Linked DNA regions of Homo sapiens. Each later gene encodes a partner of the first gene's protein in a complex. Each region holds a gene or a part of one and is shown in the gene's direction. Other genes may lie near its edges.

Region 1 (3,402 bases):
CTTAGTATATTTATCAAACTAGTAGCTAGAAAGTGAATATGCACATTACTAAGACAAAAAACAAGTGTAATTCAGAACTACTTGATTTTTTTTAGTTAAATGCAATAATTATTATGCTTAGTTTTATAACCTGCTCTCCTTGTGAATTCTTCCTTCAAATGATTACTTAACGCAGTAGTAATAGCTAGCTGTAGGATGTCCTTTAAATTTTTGTGCAAAAAAAAATTTATACCAGGTATTTGGAAATATACTTTACAATATTGGAAAATGAAGTATTTTTAATGTATTACAGCAATTATGTTTCTAAGCTTAATGTTAAGCATGTAGTCTTAGAATAGGACATGAAATTAAATTGTATGTAGCTTGGAATATATTGCTTCAGAAAACTGAATGTGTATGTCGGTCATATTGCCTTTATAACCATGCTAATATCTATGCTTTATACATACTCAAACTTGCCTTGCCTTAAAAACATACATACTACATACTTAAATCAGGAATTCTAGCCATCTCACAGAATACCAACTAAAACTAAGTGCATTGAGATCTGAGATTGGTAAACCCAGATTCATTTACCACAGCTGTAATTAAGTTTTTAGAAACTATTCTCTTTTTGGGGAAATCCATTGAAGTTAATTTCTGTTATCTTATTAGAAGAAAATGATGTTGATATGTGTTTCAGATTTTCCATTTGAAATCTTATAATTAATTTGATTTATTTACTGTAAGTAGGAGGTATAAATGACACTCTTAAATTGGAAGGAGGGGTGTTTTAGTGTCTGTTTTAGGTCAAAATTAGTGATTCTATTTTTATCAAAAGTTTTATCCTGAAGTTTCAGGACCACTCTTCCTTAATAAACTTGTTAATGGAAAGCGAGCTTTATGAACATTTAAAAATGTTGCTGCTGCTTTGTTGCTTAAAAAGAAAGTTGCCAAGAGAGACTTCTTAGGGAAAATATTTGGGTTTTTTTTCCAAAAATTGCTGAAATATTGTTTTGCCATTTTTAAAAAGTCTCAGGTTATTACCACTCTGCCATTAAATATTTGTATGCCTGCATTTTTAAAAATTCTGTGCATGTACTTTATGGAGTACATTCTATTTTTGTTTTCAGATACCCTACAACCAATTTTTTTTAGTAATCTTTTAGAATTGAAATTATCATAAATGATCGAGAATAATCATCACATAGTTTAAGATTGTATATGTTGAGTAGTTTAAAACAATCTTTGCATTTTACAGTAAGAATCAAAGTCCCTTCAGTGTGCCTTTGTCAGCTAATATGTGACCAGCAATGACAACCTTGGGAGTATTTATTAAATATTATGCTATGAATATAGGCAACACAGAACAGGGTTTGCAGTATAGCGTCTTGATGCTAAATTCTCATATACCTCTACACGAGAAATATGGAGGAGAAAAACAAGCATTTACATATATTCTTCGTCACTTTGAAGATGCATGGCCTGAACTCGACTGCTTGTGTTTGTTTACATATCAGGCATACCCAGGCATCTCCTGCAGCCAGAGGTTCCATTGCTGTCTTTGCTCAGTCCTCTTTTAAAATATGAATTAGTGGACAGGCACGGTGCCTCACACCTGTAATCCCAGCACTTTGGGAGGTCGAGGCAGGTGGATCACGAGGTCAGGAGATCAAGACCATCCTGGCTACCACTGAAACCCCATCTCTACTACAAAAAAATTAGCCGGGCGTGGTGGCGGGCACCTGCAGTCCCAGCTACTCGGGAGGCTGAGGCAGGAGAATGGTGGGAACCCGGGAGGCAGAGCTTGCAGTGAGCCAAGATCACGCCACTGCACTCCAGCCTGGGCAACAGAGCAAGACTCTGTCTCAAAAAAAATAAATAAATAAATTATGAATGAGTATTTTCTAGAAATTCAACTTGCTAAGCCTGTAATACTTAAGGGTAGTTTATCTAGATACAGTACTTTCTTCCCTGATAAGTAGTATCATTGGAGCCCTTAGGTATAGGAGAAGAGGAAGAAGTTTAAAAAGTGTAAGTGGGCCGGGCGTGGTGGCTCATGCCTGTAATCCCAGCACTTTGGGAGGCCGAGGGGGGCGGATCACGAGGTCAGGAGATCCAGACTATCCTGGCTAACAAGGTGAAACCCCGTCTCTACTAAAAATACAAAAAAAAACATTAGCCAGGCGTGGTGGCGGGCGCTTGTAGTCCCAGCTACTCGGGAGGCTGAGGTAGGAGAATGGCTTGAACCCAGGAGGCGGAGCTTGCAGTGAGCCGAGATTGCACCACTGCACTCCAGCCTGGGCGACAGAGCAAGACTCCGTCTCAAAAAAAAAAAAAAAGTGTAAGTGGATTAAAAGAGAAACTTGGTCTAGTTCATAATATTTTTAATAGGGCTTTCCCTGGCTGCTGGAAAACTTAGGCCAGTAAGCATCTCTTTGTTTAAAGTCCTACAAGACAATTTGAAATAATTCATTGTTCATGCCAAAATTCTAAGTACTGTTTTTCTTAGCAAGTGTAACATAATCAGGAACAATGGGTACAAGTAAAACATTCTTTGGATGATATTCAAAGCCTTATTAGCACTGCACCTGAATAATAGGTCATTTTGCCTCACTCATTTGCCAAAGTAGCCATTTCTAAGTTAAGGAAGTTTTTAGATAGGCTCATAGCCTTGTATTTCGTTTTAGATTGTAAGCTCAATGGCAGGGATACTATATTGGTAATTATGTTTTCATATAGCAACCACCACAGTATATTCTTGGTGCTTAATAAATGTTTATAATTGTTAACAATAACCTGTTGTATATTGTTTATTTTGAATGGTATATATGTGAAATACATATGAAAATTGAAGTATTCATGAATATATAATAGAAACAAGTAAATGAATAAAATGACCTGGTTACTATAGATAAGCCAAATTTTGAACCATCTAGAACAATGGTGTAGTCTTCCCTCTACTCAATGTAAATGCTGGGTTTTTTAATTATTATTATTATTAAGAAGGAGATACAGTCCAGGCACAGTGGCTCACACCTGTAATCCCAGCACTTTGGGAGGCCGAGGCCAGTGGATCACTTGAGGTCAGGAGTTTGAGACCAGCCTGGCCAACACAGTGAAACCTCATCTCTATTAAAAATACAAAAATTAATAGGGCGTGGTGGTGTGCACCTGTAGTCCCAGCTACTTGGGAGGCTGAGGCAGTAGAATCACTTGAATCCAGGGGGCAGAGGTTGCAGTGCAATGGTGTGCTGGGATTACAGGCAATGAGCCACTGTGCCCTGCCCTCAGCTGGAGTGCAATGGTGCAATTAAGTTCTTTCTTTTTCAACTCAAAATTTGTCTGCATCTTTACCCAAATATCCAGATCTGATACTCTAGGCTTGGGCTAATATAGTGGGGTGGAGGAGGCTTGGGTTAA
Region 2 (7,376 bases), on another chromosome or scaffold:
ACACAATATGTTAAGTTATAAATAAACAATATGGTTTGCCACTTAACAAGAAGTAGAAAGTTCAGTAGCACATCCTTATCTCCAATGCTGCCAGACATGTAACTAAGTGAGGTAGTTATTAGCTTCCTTTTCATAAGAAAATTCAATGCTTTTATAAAGTTTTTCAGTGCCTCTAGAAAAGCGGAAGCCTTTACAAAGGAGATTTGCTTTATGTTAATTATGCAAAATCAAGGGTTATTAACAAAAGACCATGTGAATGAGAGAAGCTGAGGAATGTAACTTCATCTTACTCTAATACTCAAATGGCAGATAATTATTTCTGGACAGAGTATGGAGCCACAGAAATAAAATACTCTAACCTTGAAAATTCAGCTACTCAGGAGGCTGAGGCTGGACAATCACTTGAACCTAGGAGGCGGAGGTTTCAGTGAGCCAACATCGCGCCACTTCACTCCAGTGTGGGTTACAGAATGAGACTCCATCTCAAAAAAACAAACAACAACAACAACAATTCCTGCTCCCTTTTTGTATTATGGATAGACATATCAACTTTATGGGTGACAATTACATTGGAAAGGACAGTGAATGCGATAAGTAACACCATCAAATCCAAAAGGTCTTGATAAGCTACAACAATGGGCCAATTGTAACAGACGAAATGTGACAGATATAAGATCTTCCTCTTTTATCAAAAAATGAATTGCAAAAGTACAGAATACAGGGAAAGTTTAACAATAACATGAAATGACATAGTACTTTTCTGAAAGAAAGATTAACATGATGTCACTGTCAAAAAAATGATGCTTAGAGCATGGACTGCATCATTAGAGTAACGGTATCATTTCCACTCAGAAGGGCATGCTTTTCTAGGAGGCATATTGGAATATCTGGGAAGTGTGTACCTGAAATTGAGGAAAGCATAGTCAATATTATTATGTAATTTTAAAATTAAAAATACAGAAAAAAAGAGACAAAATGAAGCTTTACAAAATCTTCCAGGCTGGGCATCTAGGAAATAAGCAGTGATTTTTTAGTGGGTTAGGGATGGTCAGGCTTGGGAGCATGACATTTTCGTGTATAGCCAAGGGAAGTAGTTATTGAGTAATTCAGTTTTTGAGTAATTCAGCTGGAAGAAGGAGAAAAGAGTCAACTGTACTCTCATTCGTAAGACCCACCGTATATCCTCTGGTTCTGCTTTACATTTAATTCACTTGTTTCCAAATGTTTATTGAGCATCAGCTATGTGATACGTACTCAGCGCACTGAGGATAAAGCAGAGAACAAGACAGCCATACAAGACTATCAGCTGATGTCTCCCAGCTTCACAAAGCACACTTCCCAGCTCCATCTTGCTTGATTTCCTGAGCCAGTCCTGAGGCAAAAACCTTAATATTCTTATCTGGTGAAACATACATTGAGCCAACTTCCCAGATCTAGTGGCCAAGGGATAAGTTTCCTGATTCCAAATTGTGTCACCATGAAGTTTCACTGCTAGCAATCAGGACCCTGGACAGGCTAACCATCATCCTAGCAAATTAATCAAACCTGAGAAGGGGGTGTGGGAACCCTGATTTATAGCTGGTCAGTCAGAAGTGTAGGTGACAGTCAACCTAAAGTCTTGTGGAAATGAACCCTTAACTTGTGGGATTTGACTATAAGTTGAGGTAGACAGTGTCAGAATTAAGTTAAACTGTAAGACACCGAGCTGGTGTCTGCTGGAGAACTGTTTCATGTGTGGGGGATTCTCTGGTGTCAGAAGTGTTGAGCCAGTGGAGAGTAGCAAAAACAGTTTGGTTTTTCCTATCTCAAACAGGAGTGAAAACAAATTCCTATGAAACAGAAGTGAATGGAGGCATGCAGCTCAAAATAACTTCAAGAGAGACATGCAGGAGGGCTGGGACTCTCTGTTCCAGGTGTAACCTGGATGTGGGGCTGGCTGGTGCAGTGTGAGGGGCTAAAACCAAAGTCAGGGAGTTGCCCTAACTGGCACTCACAATCCACCATTTCCCTCCACCTGCAAAGGTAGCCGGGTGATGACCTGCAGGCATAATACTGGGTTCTTGCCTCTGAAGAAATTCGACTATCAGTCTAGGGATCTAGGAGGAAAACAATACAAACAAACAAGAGACCACTCCAGCTATCTAGAAAAACCAGTTCAGATCTTCACACTTGAACTCAAAAGAACAACCAAGAATCAATCACCAGAGAGGGGAAGAATCTTTCTTTTCTAGGGAAAAGACTAGATAAATACACGTAAGAATGGACCCTTGAAGAAACATAATTGAGTGAACAGAAGAGAGGTTTAAAAACTATTATCCTCGGTGATACCTGAGAAGAGAGTACATTCATGAAACAAATGCAGGGTGTTATTATAGGCCGGCAGTCCAATAGGACTGGTGTCCTTAGAAGAAGAGACACCAAGGGTGTGACTGCATAGAGAAAATGCCCTGGAGGGACACCAAGAGAAGACAGTCGTCCACGAGGCAGGGGAGAGGCCACAGGATAAATCAAATCTGCTGGCACCTTGATCTAGAACTTCCAGGATTGTGAGAAATTTCTGTTGTTTAAGCCATCCAGGCTGTGGTATATTGTTACGACAGCCCTAGCCGACTAACACAGGTACTGTATGTCTTCAGCCTACCTAGGCAAGATTCACTATTAGAAATTGATAGAATAAGAAAAATTCTGATTGCTTCAAAACAGGACTTTTGCTTTAAAAGAGTTAATGATTCAAGAAATAAATGTATTAGGAGATTACCTACTAATACGTATTGATGAAATTATGAAGTTAGAAAATCATCAGTGGATGCTAAAACTTGTGGGTAAAAATTAGATGAGGAATGGGGTGTAATCAAGTAGCACCTCCCCCCAGCATTATTTTTAATCATAAAGAAAAAAATAGTAACTTTATGGTGAAGAAACCTGGCAGACACTACCTTATTTAAGTGAACATCACCTATACTGGGAGAAACCGATGCCATCTGTACCTTGATATCATGCACTGGAAAAGACACATCGCTTTAGTGGTGTTTCTCCAAAAATTCATAACCTGAAAGGGAACATCAAACTTACTTTGAAGGATATTCCACACAATACCTGGTCTGTATTCTTAAATAATGTCTAGTTCAATAAACATAAAAGCCAAGGACGGTTCCAGATCAAAGAAGACTAATGGAGGAATAACTCTTTCATCTGGAATGTTTTTTAAGCAAGAAATACCTGCTTTCGAATTTAAGAGTGCAGATCCTTTTTTTATCCAATTGGTTCGGAGATATAATTACATTATTTTACCACATCTCCTTAAGGCTTTGATCCCTGCTACAATCTACAATATATAAATGCATATGTGTGGCATCCGTCTTATCATCAATTTAGGTGACCAGTAGAAGAAAAGTGCCTGGTGCCAATTTTTATTCCATAGTATAAAATAGTCTCTCAGGACAGGGTTTTTGGTGAGAGAAGCACAGGATGTTGCTGGGTGACTGAGACTGGGTCAGGAAATAGGGAGGCAGAGGGCAACAGTTTCTCTAGAATTTAAAATTTGGTTGCTTTTGGAAGAGAAAGCAAGAGATTCCTGGAAGCCAGAACGTCATGTTTCACAAATGTAAAAGTCCTAGTTGGGAAAGACACATCGCTTTAGTGGTGTTTTCAAATGACTTTTAAAATAGTAGGGTTTTACTTGTAGGTTCTAGCTACAAGTAAAAAGGCTAAAAGCCAGCCTTAGAAACCTGTCAAAAAAGATTTCCAGCAGGGCGCTGGGGAAACGCAGACCGCGCCGGAATCCCCGCCTGGAGAAGCTCTTAATAGGGCGGGAAACTGCGTGCCCCACAAGGTCCCTCAGAGGCACATTGTGGAGACGGGCTCAGGGTAGCAACTTCTGGCGAGTGGAGCGGCTATTACACAAGCGAAACATTCGGAAGCAATTTACTTCCAGCTTTCGCAACACCCACCCTGAGCCACCACCCTCCCTTACACAGTCACGCCACAAACTTCCCCACTTCCGCCCACAGCCCTCTGGGCTTCGACCCATCAACTGAGCTTGCGCCAAGTCTACTGCGCACGCGCCAACTTCGGCCCAATCAGCGTCCCAAACCGTGGGGTGGACGCCACCGGGATAAACTATCCTCAGCGTGGGGCGGGGTCTCGAAGCCGAATAACGAACGTGATTAGCCAGCCTCTTCCACAGACTTTTAAGGGCGGAGCCTGGCCCTGGAGACACGTCTGGAGAGCTGTTCTCCTAATATGGGTAGGGTCGGGCGTGGAGCTGGCAGCGGCGCTGTGTGCGCCTGCGCGGGGCGCCGAGACAGGGCGTGTTCGCTGTTCAGTGCCGGTGTTGCAGGGAGTGAGGGCAGCTGGAGTGCGTTCTGCCGAAGCTTGTGGTTGCACGCCCATCGTCTTAGGGGCTACCTTCCGTGGTGAGTGTGTGCGGTGTTGCACTTGGGGTTGCTTCTCGCTGCGTGGCCGCAGCGGGGCTGAACCCTTCCCACTCCATCCCCTCCCCGCACCCGGACCAGCCCCTGGGACGCCCTCGGACGCCCACCCGCTCCAACCCTGGGGAAGCCTCAGAGTGGCAGCGAAGGCCTCTTGCCTTTCCGCCTCTGCGCTTGCTGTCATCGCCCACGTGCTTTGTTGTTGTTCGGTGCAGACCATGTCCAAGTCTCTGAAGAAGTTGGTGGAGGAGAGCCGGGAGAAGAACCAGCCCGAGGTGGACATGAGTGACCGGGGCATCTCCAACATGCTGGATGTCAACGGCCTCTGTGAGTTCTCGGGCAGGACTCTCCCGTGGATGAGCTGGAAGGCTTTCTAAGTTTGCCAATTCACTGCTGGTCCTGCTGTGAGCGATTGTACTGGTTTAGACCCCAGCCCCTGCTTGTAAACCTCACTTGTCAGGGGCTTCGCGCAGAGGGTTTGCAGTAGGATTTGTTCTGTTCCACCTGGAAAACGATCCTGAGAGTCCACGATGAGAATCACACAGACAGCTGTGCCTCATCGGTTGTCTCTGCTGTATGGCATTGAGGTGGATTTTCCACAGTTTGCTTAATAGTCACTTTAATTATAAATTGAAAATTAATTTTGAGTCCTTCTTCCTGTCTCCTAATACAGTCTTTGTCCATGAACAAATGACACAGAAAAGTTCCATGGTTAATAAGCATTCTTGTGCCTGGAGCGTTTTAAGCATTTCTTGAATCTTTACATTCTTCTGAGTATTTATTCTCCGAACTTGGTTCAGGCTTTTGTCACCTCCTCATGCTGTGGTGAAATCCTCCTAACTTGCCCTCTTGCCTTCAGTTTCACTGCCCAGTTTAATCACTGGGTCACTTTCAGTGTCATTTTCCTGTAACCCCTGTCTATGGTGTTACCCTCTCCCTTAAAACCAGGGATTGCAGATTCACATGCCTCCAAGTGAGGGCGGTCAGGGGCGGTTATGAACTAGGTGATAGGTGTCCCACTTGAAGGGGCCAGCTGCTGCACCTGCTACTCAGACACATGTCACCATAGGAATGTTGGCCCAATGTGCCAGATTATTTTCTTAAAGGAACCAAGATTCTATATTTTTATGTGAAATTTGCTAATTTTTAGATGTTGGCTACTAATTCTAATATTTGAAAAACCTGTGATAAGTGAGCTAAAGCAGTTCTTCAGGCTGACGTGGCTTTGGTTTAAACCCTCTCCGCACTTCTCCAGGTTGTCCATTATCGACGGTAATGCTCCAGGTTTCTTGGCGTGATGTACAAGGCCTTTCTGAATCTGAACACAACCTTACCCTTCCATGCAGCTGGCATTCCAGCCATTCTGAACCTGTTGCCCTTCCTGGACCAGAGCCTACTCGTTCAGATCTTGGTGCCTTTACAAATTCTGTTTTCCCTCTTTCTCAGTCGTTTGCACCTGAAATCCTTTTACTTCTAAGAGTCAGCTTAGACATCACCACCTGTGTAAAACCTTATCCGTCTGCACCAGGCTAACATATCCCTTCCCTCCTCTGTGAAGGTGGTCGTGTGTATTGCTTTGTGACTCCTCTCACATAGGATTGTACTGATTTTTTTCTTTTTTAATCTAGAAGTCTCTCTTCTCTGCTGGGACATTGGGAAGACAAAAGCTGTGCAATATTCATGCTTGCATTTTTTTAATAATAGTGCCTGGAGCACAGTAGATGCTCAAAAATAGTTGAGGAATGAAGAAAATGAAAGAATGATGGATTAGGCCTGTGAGTTTGGGATATCAACTCCAGGATGTGACAAGAGAGAAGAAGGGAGATGTTCAGGAGACCCTGAAAGGCGATGGATAGCCATTTAGGCATGGAGAGAACTGCAGAGTCAGGTTTACTGTGAATTCACGGTTTTCACGGTTCGAAAACCTGCCTGGGACAGAGGTTGGAGTTGATGCTATTGATATGTCTTGGCAGAAGGAAAAGGGAGGAAACGTAGATTTGCGTTTCGTAGGCTTTATGAAAATACGTGCCATTAAACTTAGGTTGTGTACTAGTTAGCCTCTCAGGCTTGGTGTGTGTTGGTCTCTTGCATTCCGTAAGGGTCCTTGCTGTCAGCAACTGAGCAGATGCCTCTGGAATTGGATATCTGAGTTTGCCCCTTGCTGCGCCTGCCCGGCTCTGCCATGACCATGGTCATTATTGGGGGCACTGTTGATACAGAGGAGAAAGAGAAGGGGATAGGGAAGATGATGCATAGCGGGAACCTTGGCCCCATGGCCTTCCTCCCTACAGCACTCATTCTCACCAGGTAGAAGAGAGGCTGCTTTCAGCAGAGGAGCTTTGTACCCTTCGGCTTTTGAAGAGGAGACTTTATGTAATATTTATAAATGGGGAGAATGGCTTAGCTATTTCGGTTCAGCTCCGTTATCTCTTTGAAGCCTTGGCTTTTATTAAGGAAGAAAAGCCACTTGCTTCCTGAAATATATTTCCGGTATAACATTGGGTGGTGAAAAGCGAGATCATTCTTAAATTTTCCTAAAGAAGTAGCTAACAACGGATAATAGTACTTTTTGGGAAGTTGGGTGGAAGTGAATTTGGAGATTTGCAGATTCCATCTCCTCTGGCTTCTGTAGCATTGAGCCAAGGCTGCTCTCTGCAAACTCCCTGACCTCAGGACTTCTCGGAGCCTAGGGGGTTCCAGGATGCTCTTCGAAGCCTCCACCAGGGCTCACTTCTCAGCAGTGCACACACACTGACACAGTGCTTAATATATACAAGTATTAAAATACTTCACATGGCTACATTAATTATAAGTGTAAGAATTTTTTTTTCTTTTTTTTTTTTTTTTTCCTGAAAACAGGGTCTCGCTCTGTCACCCAGGCTGGAATGCAGTGGTGCAGTCACAGCTCCCTGGGGCCTCACCCTCCCAGGCTCAAGCAATCCTCCC
Region 3 (7,125 bases), on another chromosome or scaffold:
AAGCTTCTGTGAGGCAGCTTGAGTCCTAATGCACCCCCTGGTCTTCCACTGCAGCCCCAGGCCTTCCCCTCCTTTTCACCACCCATGGTTGGTTCTATGATGGAGGTTGGAGGCAGTGGGCAAAGAGCCCCTGGGACAGGTGGGGATTGTGGGGAGGGTCAGGCCTTCTTATCTGGAGATGCTGTGCCCCAGCACCTCTACCCTCACTGCCCCCTGCTCTGAATTCTCGCTGCCCACTCTACCCATCTGCCCCGAACATGCTGGGTACATGGGATTGGGTGGTGGGTGGAAGGGAGGGGCAGTGTATGCCAGCTTTGGAACATGTGGCCCCATGGAAACAATTGGTGTTTTTTGTTTTCTACGCAGACATAGTCAACTGTGACCTGAAATCTACACTACGAGTGTTGTACAACCTCTTCACCAAGTACCGTAACGTGGAGTGAGGGGCTGCCCTGGGCCCACCACTGCCCAAGAGTTCTTGCTGTTGGCGTACTGGACCCTCCTCCGAACTGCCTTACCCTGCTTATTCCTGTCTCTTGCACTGTGCTCTCCCACAAGTCCAGCTGCAACCCAGAGATAGTGGAAACTGAAATTAGGAAGGAAATCATCAATAACTCAGTGGGCTGACCCATCCCTCCCAGGCGCTGGGGACCAACCTAGCAATGAAGGTTGGGAAGGTTGTTCCCTTCCCGGTGCCAGGTCCAGATTTCCCTCCATGATTTGGGAACCAGCTTAGGCAAAAGAGTCCCCACAAGATGAAAATAAAGATCCTAGTTACCATTCAAAGGATGCTAACTGTGTGTCAGGCCCCACACTAAGTGCTCTGCTCTGATATACTCAAGGCCATTAATCTTCAGGACTCCCATTGACGTAGGTGTTTCATTCCCCTTTTACAGATGAGGAAACTAAGGCTTGGAGGTTAAATGACTTGCCAGAAGTTGGAATTTTTTTCCTCTTTGAACATAACCTCTCCCTTCTCCCTAAAGGTAACCACTATTCTGAGTCCAATCATCAAGGTTTTGCTTTTCTTTTTAGCTAAGTATGCATTCCTCAATAGTAGACAGTACAACATGTTTATAACAAGCCAATTACATTATGTTCTTTGCATGTTCTAAAGTTGTGTATGTGTGTGCACATCTGAGCACGTGCACATGTACACCTGAGCCAAAAACACGAGAACCCACTGATCTCACCACTGGGGCAAGCTAGGTCAGAGCTTAGTGATTCACACTGAAATTGGCAAATTGGATTTAACCCAATTAATAGTGTGTGTGTGGCAGGAGTCATGTCCCTCACATCCTTTGTACAAATGAAAATTACTCTTAATTCCTTCAGATTTATAATAACTCTGTACTTTGGTTTCAGGGTGACATTTGGGAAGGATTTTGTTTAGAATTAATGGAGTGGCACATTTTGCAGCCTTTTTGCTTGATTGCATGTAATGGAAATGCCCTATATTTTCCTGCAAAATAAGTACTAAATTCATTATCGTTAAGCAAATGTACAATATGCTCAGGCACCGCAGAGAGCTGGGCACGGGCCCATGTGAGCATCACTTTGGAAGTAGGGCTCTTCAACAGGGACCCTTGAACTTTAAAGAAAGGAACTTCTTTTTGCCTTCTAATTGATCATTTAGACTATTCTGGCTAAGTCTGCCCACATGTAATTACCGGCTAATTCAAGCGAGGAAAAATGTAAGTCATTTAGACCAAAGCCAAGCAGTTTCTTTGCGTGGGTTACTCAAGGGCTTGTGGTTACTTGTATCTCCTCTATGTGAACTTGACTTTGAAAGACAGAGCTCTAGTGTGCCAGCCTGCTAAGTCCTGTAAGAATAGGGAAGGGCGGAGGGGGGTGGGCAGTGACTAGGGGACGAGAAGCATGGGGAAAATATTTGCACTCTAAACATACAGAGATAGAGGTGGGGCTTGTGGTACTTAACACTTGTAGCCATCAACTGACTGAGACCTTGGGCTAAATAATCAATTGTGCTGATATTACATCTCGTTATGGAATGTTCCTAAATATGCCAGGTAGACACCAGCCCAAGTACCCTCCTCCAGAAGTCTGTGACTACCTTGTCACTACTTTAGGCCCATTCCACAAAGCCCATCTCTGGTTTGAGAATTCATTTTGATCTGTATCTACACCACCCAAAGTTAGGCCTCCTATAATGTCCAAAACATTCCTTTCAGCCTTTTTATTTCTTACTGTACTGTCTCTTACTGTACTGTCTATCTGCAGTAATTGAGGACCCATAAAATTTAGATAACTACATGTCTTTGCTCTTAGAATTGTCACTCAGCATAATGAGCATTTAACATACAAAGGCAATGTACTGTTTTGTGTTGATCTATGTAAAAGAATACAATTCTTTTTTACATAATTAGTGAAATTTTATTTTTTATTAGGAAACACTAAATAGTGTAATATTTCTTTTGCTTTTAAAAAAATTCCTGGTAGCAAATCAAGATAAATAATTGCTTCATTTTCTTGAGCAATACTGAAGCAGGATGAAGTAAGAGGAATGCATTCATTTAAACATGCTTTGCTTTATGAATTTTGTCTCTTTTTTGGTCTCTTTTTCTTATATTCAAGTTACAAATGTACAAGTATCCTTACTAAGAGTGCTCCTTTTGTATTTTACATATATACAGTATGAAAATACATTGGAACACTAGGAAAGTTTTTAAATAACAGTTCTAATTTATCAGAAAATTGTGTTTTGGGATTGAGTTCTTTGTCTCAGCCCAGAATCCCAGGTCCTGGGCCTGGTTTTCTAATGCTGTCATCTCAGTTCGATATTTTACTTTAGAACCTGGAATCTCCTACTTAATATATGACCATGACTTTGAAAGGCAAAAGAGGAATCAAGAATAAATAAAACAAACTTAATCTTCATCTTTAAAAAAAAGAAAAAAGAAACCAAAATGAGAATCAACACTTCATAGGCTCACTGGGTTTTCTTTTCTTTTCTGTTAATTTAAACTCAGTTATTTTTAATGCTTAATACATACATGGTGCAAAATTTAAAAAGCGCAAATAGGTATCTAGTGGAAAACCTAAGCCTCCCTCTCTCCTCCGGCACCCATTACCTCTCCCTGGAGGCAACTGTTTTGATCCATTTCTTACACACACTGCCAGAGATACTCTAGGCATGTAAAGCACAAACATACATATAAAATCTGCGGGCTTCAAAAAATATAAGTAGGATGTCATCTATACTGTCATACACTTTGTTTTTTATCACTTAATGTTATATCTTGGATATTGTATTACCCTGGGTATTAAAAAGAACTCCTTTCACATTTTAAAATAACAATCTGAGCACTTCATAAATCCAAATGCGTATCTCCAGTCTGCTCGAGCTAGGAAAGGAAAAAAGCCCTAGCCGAAGGAGGAAAGGCTGCCTAGACAATGATTTCAAAAGTAGAGTCTAAAACCTATGGGGTGCAGGACCAGAGGCTGGGGCACATTATCAGAGGCATCCTCATGTGCCTCGAACCGAATGTTTTTAAGTCCTCTTTTGGAACCTTATGGTGAATTGTATGCAGATTGATGAAGGTTTCATTTTTATATATTACCAGGACTACGAATTTGTAATCCACTAAGCATCACAAAGGTTACTACATACGCTATAATACTGTACTATAAAGTCTAGCTGCCAGCAATGCAGTGCTCGCCTGCTATATTAGAAGGCTCCAGTTTCACATGTGCAGGCACAGAGATGACATTTCCCGATCTGGGAGAAGGCTTCTTTATCAGCACATCATCAGTGTTGCCTCGAGTTGGTTGCAATTTTCAATTGCTGCTATTGGTGCTTTTTAATTATGAATTACTGTTAGCTTGCATTATCATCAGTTTGTTTTGTTGTGGGTTGCTTGGTTAACCCTACAGAGTATACTTGAAGCTTATTTGCATCAACAGTATTCTGGAGCTGTAATTTTTCAATAACTAGACTCTGAGACATGTATACATTGTGGTTCAAATAGGAATCATCCATAGTCCAGTGCTAGAACAAATGTATACATAATCCACTCCCCACAAATTATCACTCATTTATTTTTCCACTGGAAAATAAGACTAGATGGAGTCGGTAGGTGAAACAGTTTTGCCGTGCCTAAGTGGAGGCTGATCAAAACTAATTTGAGATCCGCTGCCTTTAATAGAGCTCCACCTCAGGAATCTTACCTTTATAATACATCCTAGATAGGCAAGAGGGATATGTCCTGAAATCTTCACTAATTCCAAGATTGCGTGTCATTTCCCCCAAAAATTTGCTTAACTCTATTGGAAAATCCAAGAGAATTGCTGCAGCTGCTGAAAACAAGAGAGCTGCATTAAGCTGCAAGGCCGGGTAGGGTAGGTAGACTGACTCACCACCTATGGGACCTGCCTCCACACATCAGCTTCCCAAATACTTGCAGATTTGGGTCTTACCAAAAGAAAAGTCAGTATGAGTTACTCACAATCCTAACTACAAAGGCTACATTTACAAATACCAGAGTTTCGACTGTGTTTTTACTCTCTGCTCCCTGAAAACTGTAACCCCAGGCTAGCTCCAAACTCTGCTTATAGCCCATGCTTTACTACAGTGGTGGTCGCATATGTGAACGTGTGCATGCGTGTTCACGTGTTCATGACAACAGCAATGCAGCCATGAGGGTGCTGCCCCCAAACCAAGCCTGATGACCTTGAGAACCTCAGGCTTCCCAGTAGGATCCTGCAAGAAAGCATCTCTTAAAAATAAATTCTACAGGATATTAGTAAATGTTAGATGAAAAAAAAAGTCACGTTTAAATATGTTTAGGAAACATGAGGTGAAGAAAGTTAGCTTACTGACGCTTTTTGTTTTCTAGTTGGAGCGCACCTCAGAGTCCCCTACATAATGCGTATTAGGACTTTCTAAGGGAAGACGGGGTACGATGGGTCCCAATCTTGTTTGATCACAGGATGTATCTGTCCCCTGAGAAATTTCTAGGATGAGTACTCTGAACTCAGGACTTCATTTAGTCATATATTCGGCAAGTATGTGTTGAGTGCAGCATGTCCAAGGGTGAGTGAGAGATTATAGCTAGCAGGGGAGACAGATGAAAAATAACTATGAATCGACGTTAGTTACAAATTGTGACTGTCGCGATGGAGAAGTACTAAAATCTATGAAAGAGTTCTAATGTAGATTTAAGGTCATGAGAAGTCTCCGGCAAAGTGGCATTTTAAAGTAATCCCTCAGTCGTGGAGCTACTCCAATGAGAAGCCTGCCACTCCAGGGCGCACCACGGAGGAGGATCCCCAGACAAGAAGACCTGGCTCCCCAGAGGAGTGCGGAAAGCCAGCATGGCTAGAGGACACAGAATGAGGGAGAAGACGGATCCGATCGCAGGCATCGGGAGTGCTGATTTTTCTCCTTTGAAAAACAGGTTGCCATCTACCTTTTTAAATGTCCCACTGTGTAGGAAAACTCTGGGGAAAGCTACGTCAGCAATATGGAGTCTGGGGTTGCCTTTCTCATGTCATACCATGGTCCTGGCTGGGGAGCGGAGGAGACCAGGAGAGGAGATCAGACCTCTGCCCACCCCAACACCAATCTGGTCTTAGCAACCTCTGGGCATCCCATAGCTCCTCCTAACCTGCTGCTGCTGATGGACAGGAACTCCTGGACTACCCCCAGCCTCTCCACAATGTGTCCTGAGAAGAGCTAGGGGAACTGGACAGAGTGGACGAGGCTGCATGTGTGGAGGGAATGAAATAAGGGGCCTACCAGGCCAGAACGCTGATCCATGGAGACCAGTGCTTCCAGCCCTCTCACCTCGGAGGAGGACTCCTGTTTTACCAACGGCAGGAGCAGGAATCCCACCATTCAGCCTGTGGGCTTGACAAACTATAAGCAAGCCTCCTGGATGTGGAATAATACATTTTCAAAATTCATACTAATCAGCATGAACTATAACTGCTCCAATGCCCACCACATTATATAAAATCTACCAAAAGGGGGTCACTTAATGTTTCACAATGTTTGGTGAAACAACTTTCATATGAAAGTACGGTTGATCCTTGAATGATATGGGCACCGACCCCTGAGCAGCTGAAAATTTGCATGTAACTTGACTCCCCCAAAACGTAACTATAATACTAATAGCCTTACTGAACACGGTCAATTAACACATAGCTAGTATGTTATGTGCATTATATACTATATCCTTACCATACGGTAAGCTAGAGAAAAAATGTTACTAAGAAAAACATAAGCAAGAGAAAATATATTTACTATTAAGTGAAAGCAGGTCATCATAAAGTCCTCATCCTCATGGTCATCACATTGAGTAGGCGGAGGAGGAGGAGGAGGAGGAGGAGTAGGGGTTGGTCTTGCTGTCTGAGGGGTGGCAGAGGCAGAAAAAAAATCCATGGGCCGAGCACGGTGGCTCACACCTGTAATCCCAGCACTTTGGGAGGCCGAGACGGACAGATCACAAGGTCAGGAGATTGAGACTATCCTGGCTAATATGGTGAAACCCCGTCTGTACTAAAAATACAAAAAATTAGCCAGGTGTGGTGGTGCGTGCCTGTAATCCCAGCTACTCAGGGGGCTGAGGCAGAAGTATTGCTTGAACCCAGGAGGCAGAGGTTGCAATGAGCTGAGATCGCATCACTGCACTCAAGCCTGGGCAACAGAGCAAGACTGCGTCTCAAAAAAACAAAACAAAACAAAACAAAAATCCATGAACAAGTGGACCTGCCCAGTTCAAATCATTGTTGTTCAAGGGTCAATTGTATATTATTTTCACTGGAAGTTTTGAAATTCCAGAAATATGCTTGGAAATCCCCGCTTGAAATCTCCTTGGTTGGAAACCAGTCCAGTGGGTGACTGGCCCAGAATGATGCTTCTCCTCGGTGGACCCCCTGGGCTGAGCAGCCTGTGTTCCTGCCTCAACTCCCCTGAACCCTCCTGAACTTTCTACACACATGTGGGCACTGGCTTTGATACTGGCATTTGGAAGGGCACTTGGGAAATTCAGAGAAGTACCCATTATTAAGATAAATGATGTTTTATCAATGAAGCAGACTTTTCATTTCTTTTTATTGATCTTCATGTTTTCACATCTTGAGATGCAATTTGTTAGCACAGGC

What was found.
Region 2: the proteins of LIMS1 (region 1) and RSU1 are in contact, whole or in part, in a crystal structure (PDB 7LT9), measured with the Homo sapiens proteins. Residues at the interface, in NP_001180417.1 of Homo sapiens: Cys252, Phe253, His254, Cys255, Asn256, Leu267, Asn268, Lys269, Ser279, Thr280, Cys281, Asn282, Thr283, Glu293, Phe294, Asp295, Met296, Lys297, Cys303, Lys306, Phe307, Pro308, Glu310, Leu311, Arg314, Leu315, Lys317, Leu318, Ala319; in NP_036557.1 of Homo sapiens: Asp21 (codon at 4,709), Ser23 (codon at 4,715), Asp24 (codon at 4,718), Gln44, Val46, Ser48, His49, Val67, Asn69, Phe71, Asn72, His90, Asn92, Met95, Glu112, Asp115, Thr117, Tyr118, Arg137, Ala138, Tyr140, Ser142, Asp143, Ile161, Ser163, Arg165, Asp166, Glu184, His186, Gln188.
Region 3: LIMS1 (region 1) and PARVA share a complex: the UniProt entries of both Homo sapiens proteins name them as parts of the heterotrimeric IPP (ILK-PINCH-PARVIN) complex.

Annotation. Positions count from the first base shown.
Region 1 is NC_000002.12:108,684,470-108,687,871, forward strand, and holds the end of LIMS1 (LIM and senescent cell antigen-like-containing domain protein 1), read left to right. Parts: 3' UTR 1-2,777; downstream 2,778-3,402. UniProt on the Homo sapiens protein: Within the IPP (ILK-PINCH-PARVIN) complex, binds to F-actin, promoting F-actin bundling, a process required to generate force for actin cytoskeleton reorganization and subsequent dynamic cell adhesion events such as cell spreading and migration.
Region 2 is NC_000010.11:16,814,354-16,821,729, reverse strand, and holds the start of RSU1 (ras suppressor protein 1), read left to right. Parts: upstream 1-4,305; 5' UTR 4,306-4,415; intron 4,416-4,645; 5' UTR 4,646-4,648; coding exon 4,649-4,757; intron 4,758-7,376. UniProt on the Homo sapiens protein: Potentially plays a role in the Ras signal transduction pathway. Capable of suppressing v-Ras transformation in vitro.
Region 3 is NC_000011.10:12,527,483-12,534,607, forward strand, and holds part of PARVA (alpha-parvin), read left to right. Parts: intron 1-366; coding exon 367-443; 3' UTR 444-7,125. UniProt on the Homo sapiens protein: Plays a role in sarcomere organization and in smooth muscle cell contraction. Required for normal development of the embryonic cardiovascular system, and for normal septation of the heart outflow tract.